2 separate regions of the Homo sapiens genome follow, and region 2 is linked to region 1. The links come from fine-mapping of genetic effects on gene expression. A gene starts in region 1. The other region holds a variant in brackets. All regions are shown on one strand. Distances are between the middles of the regions. Region 1 holds the start of SIRT1 (sirtuin 1). Region 2 has its middle 11 kb from the start of DNAJC12.

Evidence for each region. PIP is the estimated chance that this variant, and not a neighbour inherited with it, causes the effect. A credible set is the group of variants that fine-mapping cannot tell apart.
Region 2: its variant is the best candidate, but not a certain one, in a credible set for the expression of SIRT1 in whole blood (INTERVAL, PIP 0.88).

Annotation. Positions count from the first base shown.
Region 1 is chr10:67,881,987-67,886,986 of GRCh38, forward strand. It overlaps SIRT1 (sirtuin 1), which reads left to right and starts at 2,670. Exons shown (of 9, transcript NM_012238.5): 1 at 2,670-3,165. The coding sequence starts at 2,736. RefSeq lists promoters at 350-2,735, 1,706-2,737, 2,525-2,736, 2,563-2,738, enhancers at 2,186-2,245, 2,266-2,425 and silencers at 2,506-3,045, 2,546-2,730, 3,165-3,459, 3,256-3,375.
Region 2 is chr10:67,846,793-67,851,792 of GRCh38, forward strand. No RefSeq gene overlaps it. Among named protein-coding and RNA genes, the nearest start is that of DNAJC12, 11 kb to the left of the region's middle. RefSeq lists enhancers at 2,605-2,654, 2,685-2,744. The variant C/A (reference allele first, on the strand shown) is at 2,990.

The DNA.
Region 1 (5,000 bases):
CTTGTTGCCCAGGCTGGAGTGCAATGGCACTGTCTCAGGTCACTGCAACCTCCACCTCCTGAGTTCAAGCGATTCTCCCGTCTCAGCCTCCCGAGTAGCTGGGATTACAGGCGCATGCCACCACTCTGGGCTAATTTTTGTATTTTTAGTGGAGACGGGGTTACATCATACTGGTCAGGCTGGTCTCGAACTCCTGACATCAGGTGATCCGCCCGCCTTGGCCTCCCAAAGTGCTGGGATTTATAGGCGTGAGCCACAGCGCCTAGCCTTAATGTTAGTTCTTAACCAGTGGTAGACCAGAAGTCTAATTGGGATTTTTTGTTTTTGTGTTTGTTGTAATACAATTTCTGTTTCTCATTTATCCTACCTGAAAAGCATACTGCATCTCTGACCTCTCAGCATACTAACAATAATATTGATCACATAGCATTTCTTGTAGTTCATAAACTTCACGTGTCAATAATATACTATAAATATAAATGAATTAATGAACAACAGGATGCTCATAAGCTTACAGACATCTTTTTCTCAAAAAAGCTGGGAATTTTGTTTCTGTTTTATTGGGATACTGACTCTCAACATTTCATATATTGCATTCCACCAACGTAGCTGAGAGTCAATTTATGAAATATTTTGTAGTGTAAGACAGAAAGTGGGGAGGACCAAGTATGTCAACCACTAGGAGTGTGGTGCCTAGTCAGGAATTGGGAGGAGTGTAGCAAGAAAGGAAGGACAACAGGATTTGGTCATTGATTGGTCAGATGGATTTCAGAGGGATTGGTATGAAGGAACGCTTCAAAGATTTTTTTTTTAATTTAAGTTCCAGGATACAGGTGCAGAATGTGTAGGTTTGTTACATACTTATAGGTGAGCCATGGTGGTTTGCTGCACCAATCAACCCCTCATCTAGGTTTTATTTATATTTTTTTTTGAGACGGAGTTTCGCTCTTGCTGCCCAGGCTGGTGTGCAATGGTGCGATCTCGGCTCACCGCAACCTCTGCCTGCTGGGTTCAAGCGATTCTCCTGCCTCAGCCTTCTGAGTAGCTGGGATTACAGGCATGTGCCACCACGCCCGGCTAATTTTGTATTTTTAGTAGAGACGGGGTTTCTCCATGTTGGTCAGGCTGGTCTCGAACTTCCGACTTCAGGTGATCTGTCCGCCTCGGCCTCCCAAAGTGCTGGGATTACAGGCAGCAGCCACCGCGCCCAGCCAGGTTTTAAGTCCCGCATGCATTAGCTATTTGTCCTAATGCTCTCCCTCCCCTTGACCCCCACGCAACCAAAGATGGTTTTAAGGCTTCTAGGACTGGAGATGATTACTTTCAGAAATGAATAGTGGTGACCAGATGAAATAAGACTTTTGGATGTAGATAGGACCTTAGCGATATATTTCCAGCTTTTTATTTTTTATTTTAAGGATGAAGAAACAGCTTTAAGTTGGTTGCCTAAAGTCACGCAGGTAATTGATGCAGTATGGCCAGAACCCATACTAGGCTTAAGGGACAGTGTACCATAAACTCGTAGAGGTCCTTTAAACAGATAGAAACGCTGTGCTCCAGGCAGATGCCATAACAAACACTGGCTCTAGATCTACCATGGGTTATATGGGTCCTTAGTTAAGATTAGATATGGAGTCACAGTGTGCCAGAATTTCAGGGAGAGAGGAAAGTGGAAGGGCTTTCCACTAAGCCTTTTGAACTACTAGGTACCCCTCGTTTTACATCTGGTTATCTCATTTAAATCTATGACGTTTTAAAATACTTATTACCATTTAAGACATGAGAAAAATTAAGTTTAGAAACGGCTAGATAGCTCACGCTAGAAAGGAAGGACTCCAAATTTTAACCAAGGGCAGATGTGCATGGAGGCCAAGTCATTTCCTTCCCATGCTCTCATACTGACCCAACAAACCCATTCTGCACGTGAGAAAACTGAGGCCCGGAGGAGGGAATTCACACACGTTTGAAGCCAAGCTGGGGCCAGAAAGTAGATCGGCTGATCTCCAAACCTCCACGTCAAAGGTCTTCCCAGGAGGACATATGCCTTCAAGGATTTTACAATGTATACCACCCTACAAGTGATGGGAGAGAGGGGAAAAAAGCAACCGACTAAGGAGAAAAGCAAGGAGCAGAAAAAGGAGCAAAAGAGGAGCTGTCAGAACGGTGTGAGGAGAGTGGGAAAGGAGCCGCCTCCTTTTGCCTCTCTTCCTACTTATTAACAAAACAGAACGACTATCCAACGTATTTCAGGGAGCTAAGTCTTAGCCAGCTTCAGCTGTGTTTTAACCCTTAGCTAAATATAGACAAGGCTAAGGCAGGCCAGGTGTACACTTCAGGAAGACGTGGAAATTCCCAGGGCGGACCAAAACTTGAGCTGTTCCGGCGGTAGTGATTTGAGGTCAGTTTGAAAGAGAAGTTGAGAAAGCGGCCGAGGGGCGAATTTGGCTGCACTACACGCTCGCCACAAAGAGGAAGGGCCGCCGGCCGCCGGGGCCGAGTGCGCTTCCAGCCCAGGCGGAGCGGTAGACGCAACAGCCTCCGCCCGCCACGTGACCCGTAGTGTTGTGGTCTGGCCCGCGTGGGTGGCGGGAGCGCCGAGAGGGCGGGGGCGGCGATGGGGCGGGTCACGTGATGGGGTTTAAATCTCCCGCAGCCGGAGCCGCGGGGGCGCCAGTGCCGCGCGTCGAGCGGGAGCAGAGGAGGCGAGGGAGGAGGGCCAGAGAGGCAGTTGGAAGATGGCGGACGAGGCGGCCCTCGCCCTTCAGCCCGGCGGCTCCCCCTCGGCGGCGGGGGCCGACAGGGAGGCCGCGTCGTCCCCCGCCGGGGAGCCGCTCCGCAAGAGGCCGCGGAGAGATGGTCCCGGCCTCGAGCGGAGCCCGGGCGAGCCCGGTGGGGCGGCCCCAGAGCGTGAGGTGCCGGCGGCGGCCAGGGGCTGCCCGGGTGCGGCGGCGGCGGCGCTGTGGCGGGAGGCGGAGGCAGAGGCGGCGGCGGCAGGCGGGGAGCAAGAGGCCCAGGCGACTGCGGCGGCTGGGGAAGGAGACAATGGGCCGGGCCTGCAGGGCCCATCTCGGGAGCCACCGCTGGCCGACAACTTGTACGACGAAGACGACGACGACGAGGGCGAGGAGGAGGAAGAGGCGGCGGCGGCGGCGATTGGGTACCGAGGTGCGCAGGGTGCGGGCGGCCGGAACTGCGCATCTCCTCCTCCCTCTCCCCGGGCTCCTACTGGCCTGAGGTTGAGGGCGGCTGGGGGCTCGGGGCAGGCTCCGCGGCGTTCCCCTCCCCACCCCGGCCCTCCGTTCAGCCGCGCTCCTCCGGGGCTGCGGTTCCTACTGCGCGAGCTGCCAGTGGATTCGCTCTTTTCCTCCGTCCGTGGCCCGCCTGGGCGGCCTTGTTCTTTCCGCAGCAGCCAGGTCGGGAGACTCTCGCAGTCGCTTTAAAATAAGTTTCTCTCCCCCTCTTACTCTTTTAGCATATTGCTTTTGTTAGAGCTTTTTTTTTCTTTTTCTTTATTTTTTATTTTCATTGCTTTTCTCCTCTACCCCCCAGCACACTTAAGTCTGCAACTTTTTGGCTGTCCCGTTGGTCTGCGTTTTCAATTGCTTTTTGCAAACTTGACACCTGTGCAGTTTGCTTTTTTTGGTCTATATTTTTATGACTGAAATTACAATTTTTGAAAGAGGAAAGCTGTTTCTATAGTCACAGCTTGCAAAATTTAAAGAACGTGGCTGTTCCTGAAGACATTACCATTCTGTAATGCAGTTAGGAGTGGGTATGGGAGAGAGAGTACTTTTAGAGCTGTTCATATTACTTTTATTCTAATCTTGCTCTTGTGCGGTAATGGTGTTTGGGCTAAACATGCTTTTTTTGTATGTATGTAGTATTGAGACACAAACTTAACACTTCTAGCATAATGAAGCAGATATGTTGCAGTTGTCATGTTCTTGAAGGTTTCTTTTTTTTTTTTTTTTTTTTTTTGAGACGGAGTCTCGCTCTGTCGCTAGGCTGGAGTGCAGTGGCGCGATCTCGGCTCAGTGCAACCTCCGCCTCCCGCGTTCAACCGATTCTCCTTCAGCCTGCCGAGTAGCTGGGACTACAGACACCCGCCACCACGCCCAGCTAATTTTTGTGTTTTTAGCAGAGACGGGGTTTCACCATGTTGGCCAGGATGGTCTTGATTTCTTGACTTCGTGATCCGTCCGCCTCGGCCGCCCAAAGTGCTGGGATTACAGGCGTGAGCCACCGCGCCCGGTCAGGTTTCTTATTTTTGATCTGAGGAGTTTCTATCCTTGATAGGTGTTCATCTTTATCAATATTTGGGTCAGGCCGGGCGCGGTGGCTCTTTCGTGTAATCCTAGCACTTTGGGAGGCCAAAGCGGGAGGATCTCTTGAGCCTAGGAGTTTCAGGCCAGCCTGGGCAACATAGCGAGACCTCCTCTCTACTAAAAGTAAAAAAAGCGGGACGTGGTGTCGCACACCTTTAGTCCCAGGTACTAGAGTTCGAGGTTGCAGTGAGCTGTGATCCTGCCACTGCACTCCAGGGTGGGCAACAGAGTGAGACCCCGTCTCAAAAAAAAAAAAAAAAAAAAGTAATATGTGTTTTTAGGGACTGATTTAGTAAAGAGACCCTGATTTCAAGCAACACAGTTGAGTACTAATTTATTATTTACCTAATAATAATTGTGTTATTAATACTGTTTATTTAATAGAGGAAACAATGCAGAGGTACTTGTAGTATTGTGTAAGTTTAACGTGCGCATTGCCAAGGTTATATTTGAATGACGTTTTTATGTAAATGTCCATTTATTACACGTTTCACGAACGCTATTGTTTGTGATTGTATGATACATTCTAGCTAGATTATTATCTTTTCTTTTTTTTTTTCCTTTTCTTTTTTTTTAAAAGGTGGAGTTTCGCTCTTGTTACCCAAGCTGGAGTGCAATGGCGTGATCTCGGCTCACCGCAACCTCCGCTTCCCGGGTTCAAGCCATTCTCGTGCC
Region 2 (5,000 bases), 35 kb before region 1:
AGTCTCTACAAAAAAAAAAAAAAAAAGCACTTGTATCCCAGCTAGCTACTAGGGAGGCTGAGGCAGGAGGATCGCTTGAGTCTGGGGAACTCCAAGCTGCAGTGAGCTGAGATCACGCCACTGCATTCCAGTCTGGGCGACAGAGCAAGACCCTGTCTCAAAAAAAAAAGTAAGCACATTTATGTGACCAAAAAAATACAAAAGCAAAATCAGAAGGCAAATAATATACAAAGAAAAAAATTTCATAATTCTCATAACAGACAAAAGGCTAACTTCCTTAATATACAAGTGCAGACAAATCAATTTTAAAAAGCTTAACAACACAACAGAAAATTAAGCCAAAAATGCCGGGCTTGGTGGCTCACGCCTGTAATCCCAGCACTTTTAGGAGGCCGAGGCAGGCGGATCACCAGGTCAGGAGATGGAGACCATCTTGGCTAACACGGTGAAACCCCGTCTCTACTAAAAATACAAAAAAAAACAAAATTAGCCGGGGGTGGTGGCAGGCGCCTGTAGTACCAGCTACTCGGGAGGCTGAGGCAGGAGAATGGTGTGAACCTGGGAGGCGGAGCTTGCAGTGAGCGGAGATCACGCCACTGCACTCCAGCCTGGGCGACAGAGCGAGACTCCGTCTAGAAAAAAAAAAAAAAAAAAAGAAAGAAAGAAAGAAAATTAAGCCAAAAATACAACTACTTTCAGAAATACAAACGACCAATAAACATACAAATAGTAGTGCAACATCACTAATAATTATGAAACTGCAAATCAATCCAAAGAGGATAAAGTTGTTCACCTCTCAGATTAGCAAAGGTTTGATAATACCCATGCCAGAAAACAGAAATGACGAAGAAAGCATTTCCATACATTGTTGGATGAGAGTGTAATTTGGTACAATTTGGCAATTTGGTGTATTTATCACCTTTTATAAAGCATATCTATACTTGACAGGGCAATTTTGTCTCTACAAATTCAGCTTGTGGATATACACCAAAATATGTTCAAGAGGACCACTGCAGCGTCGTTTGCAACAGGAAAAAATATATATACAACAAAATGTTCATCGGTGGAGTTGAGGAGGGCAGGAGATGAATAAATTATGCTATTTGTAGGATGAACTATTGTATTGCCAGTGAAAAGAGAATAAAGATAGCTTTTTATGTGCAAGTATGGAAAGATGTCTAACGAGTGCTATCAAATGAAAAAACAGGTTTGAGAAGAGTATTACAGTATTATCTCTATTGTGTACTTTTTAATAGTATGTACATTTGCACTTGTAATTTTTTCTAAAGATAACTGCCTTTAAAAAGCAAGCAACAGGCTGGGAGCGGTGGCTCACGCCTATAATCCCAGCACTTTGGAAGGCCGAGGTGGGCAGATCATGAGGTCAGGAGTTCAAGACCAGCCTGGCCAACAGGGTGAAATCCCCGTCTCTACTTAAAAAAAAAAAAAAAAAAAGCAAAAATTAGCGTGGCATGGTGGTGCGTTCCTGTAATCCCAGCTACTCGGGAGACTGAGGCAGGTGAATTTTTTTAACCGGGACCCAGGAGGTGGAGGTGCAGTGAGCCAAGATCGTACCACTGAACTCCAGCCTGGATTACAGACCGAGACTCCGTCTCAAAAAAAAAAAAAAGCAAGCAGCAGGCCGGGCGAAGTGGCTCATGCCTATAATCCCAGAACTCTGGGAGGCTGAGGCGGGTGGATCACCTGATTGAGGTCAGGAGTTCGAGACTAGCCTGGCCAACATGGTGAAACTCCGTCTCTACTACTACTACTAATAATAATTAGCTGGGAGTGGTGGCGCACACCTGTAATCTCAGCTTCTAGGGAGGCTGAGGCAGGAGAATTGCTTGAACCCGGGAGGCGGAGGTTGCAGTGAGCCGAGATTGCGCCATTGCATTCCAGCTTGGGCAACAAGAGCCAAAGTTCATCTCAAAAAAAAAAAAAAAAAGCAAGCAACAGTATTCTTTTAGGGGAGGAACTGGGCAGGTACTCAAAAGAAGATTTTCATTTCCTTTTATACTTTTTTAAACTGTGTGAAGTCGATGTAGTCATCCCATAATTTTTCTTCTGTATGGAAGAATATAGCGTATAGTAGAAATTATGTAGAACTTTTTAACAGAGTTAAAGCTCTGTGGAGGCCGGGCGCGGTGGCTCACGCCTGTAATCCCAGCACTTTGGAAGGCCAAGGCGGGTGGATCACTTGAGGTCAAGAGTTCCAGACCAGCCTGGCCAGAATGGTGAAACCCCATCTCTACTAAAAATACAGAAATTAGCCGGGTGTGGTGGCGGGCGCCTATAGTCCCGGCTACTCGGGTGCCTGAGGCAGGAGAATTGCTTGACCAGGCAGGCGGAGGTTGCAGTGAGCCGAGATCGCGCCACTGCACTCCAGCCTGGGCAACAGAGTGACACTCCGTCAGAAAAAAGAAAGGGGAGGGCAGGGGAGGGCAGGGGAGGGCAGGGAAGGGGAGGGGAGGGGAGGGGAGGGCAGGGAAGGGGAGGGGAGGGGAGAAGAGAAGAGAAGAGAAGAGAAGAGAACCACACACACAAGACAAGAGAAGAGAAGAGAACCACACACACAAGACACGGAGAGTCCGATGCTCAATCCTAGGCCTTGGAGGCCTGTTCCTCCCTGCCGGGAAGCGTCTCTCACCCGAGACTACAACTCCCATAAGGCATCGCGAGCATCGCGAGAACGGCGCCACAGAGGAACCGGAAACAAGCCAGTTACTTTCATACTCAGGGACACCGTCCCCCCCTCCGCCCCCCGCCCTCCGTAAGTGCTATTTTTACATCGAATGCCCTAGTCTGGAAGTAGGTAAACTGAAACTAAGCTCAAATCAAAAGGAGAAAGGCTGGAAAACAAGAGGCTACAAGCTCCAGAAGCTCCGAGCGAGGATGAAAATTAGCCAGCCCACAGGTGGGCTCTGCGCGGCCCTGAAAGTCGCACTCTGACCTGACCCTTTCCGCCTCTCGTTTTTCCTTCCAGCCT[C/A]GCTTCAAAGTTCTGTATTGCAGAATGAAATCGGCGCCTTTCCCCAGCGGTTTTTCCAAATACGAGCAAAGGAGGCACAAAACGCAGGTTCCAGAAACTGTGCCTGCAACCATTCGTCCTTATTTCCCGACACACGGGCCCCTGCTCCCCGCTAAGGCTGGGGTCCTGGACACGAGTTTTGCGCTCTGATAGAAGGGCTTAGATTCCAGATTGACACTGGGCTCTCTAAAGCCTGCTCCTCAATCTACTGATCCGGTCCAGCTTAAGATCCAGTAGAAAGAAAACATAGCCTGCCCGGACCGTAACCTTTTTGTTTCAGACCCTGCATTTGTAAAATAGCCTAATAAAATCTCTCCCTGGCTTACAGAGCAAGACAGCGTCCTGGTCCAAGAACCGGATGAGTCAAAAGGCGTTACTGTTGAGTCAGACATAGAATACATGAATACCTAGAAATTCGTAAATGATTCTCCAAAGGCTGTTGAAATAGCGTTTTCAGGCCGGGCGCGGTGGCTCACACCTGTAATCCCAGCACTTTGGGAGGCCGAGGCGGGCGGATCACCTGAGGTCAGGAGATGGAGACCATCCTGGCTAACACGGTGAAACCTCGTCTCTACTGAAAATACAAAAAATTAGCCGGGCGTGGTGGCGGGGGCCTGTAGTCCCAGCTACTCGGGAGGCTGAGGCAGGAAAATCGCTTGAACCCGGGAGGCGGAGCTTGCAGTGAGCCGGGATCGCACCACTGCCCTCCAGCCTGGGCGACAGAGCAAGACTCTGTCTCAAAAAATGAAAAAAGAAATAGCGTTTTCAAGTTATAATCAGGTGCGATGATGAATGCTATTAATGCCATTTTTAAGAATAGTAAGTGCAGGATGTTGATAGGTTATTCTGGGAGGAAGGGAGATGGGGTATGTGAACTCTGTACTTTCCCCTCAATTTTGCTGTGAAACTAAACTGCTCTAAAAGTAGTTTGTTTGTTTGTTTGTTTTTAAGTAACAATAAGAAGTATAATAGGCCGGGCACGATGGCTCACGCCTGTAATTCCAGCACTTTGGGAGGCCAAGGCATGTGGATCATTTGAGGTCAGGAGTTTCAAGACCAGCCTCACCAACATAGTGAAACCCCGTCTCCACTAAAAATACAAAGATTAGCTGGGCGTGATGGTGGGCACCTGTAATTCCAGCTACTCCGGAGACTGAGGCAGGAGAATCACTTGAACCGGAGAGGCGGAGGTTGCAGTGAGCCAAGCTCGCACCACTGCACTCCAGCCTGGGCAACAAGAGCGAAACTCTCTCAAAAAAAAAAAAATAGACGTATAATAACCACTCATCAGATAAAATTACAACAAATTTAAAGATCTTAATTGGCTTTTATTTGCAATAAATCAGATAACACCTCATTCTGTAAAATAAATTGAGTGTTCTGGGATCTGGGCAGGAGGCTGGCTTTATAAGCCAAAAAGGGGCTGAAGAAAGCAGAAAGAGATAACAAAAAGCAGATTGGTCGTTTCAAAGTTACTTTCCTTGTAAAATTAAAGCACAGCCGACTTTCTTATTATGCCAGCTGAAACTGGCCTGTGTGGGTTTCTCTCCTGATTTCTTGGAAGGTGGAATAAGCAACTTAGTTTTGTTTTGGTGACATGGTAGTTTGGCATGAGTAACTTCATTTTGGTTTTGTCTATTGGGCCTAGTGCAGGAGCTCAGTTCAAACCAATGGCCTATAAATTTTATTTAACACCATTAGTGAGCTCTTATTATGTGCTAGTGACAAAGCTGGGACTTGAACTCTGCTGTGTCTGACTCCAAAGTCCCTGGTGAAGAAAATGTTTAAAATGTTACATCAAATTATCTGGCCAGAATTGTGGCATATTAGAAAATGCTTGTAATCCCAACACTTTGGGAGGCAGGAGGATCGCATGAAGCCAGGAGTTCAAGACCAAACTGGGCAACAAAGTGCGATGTTATCTCTACTAAAAATAAAATACAATAAATTAGCCAGACATGATGGCATGTAC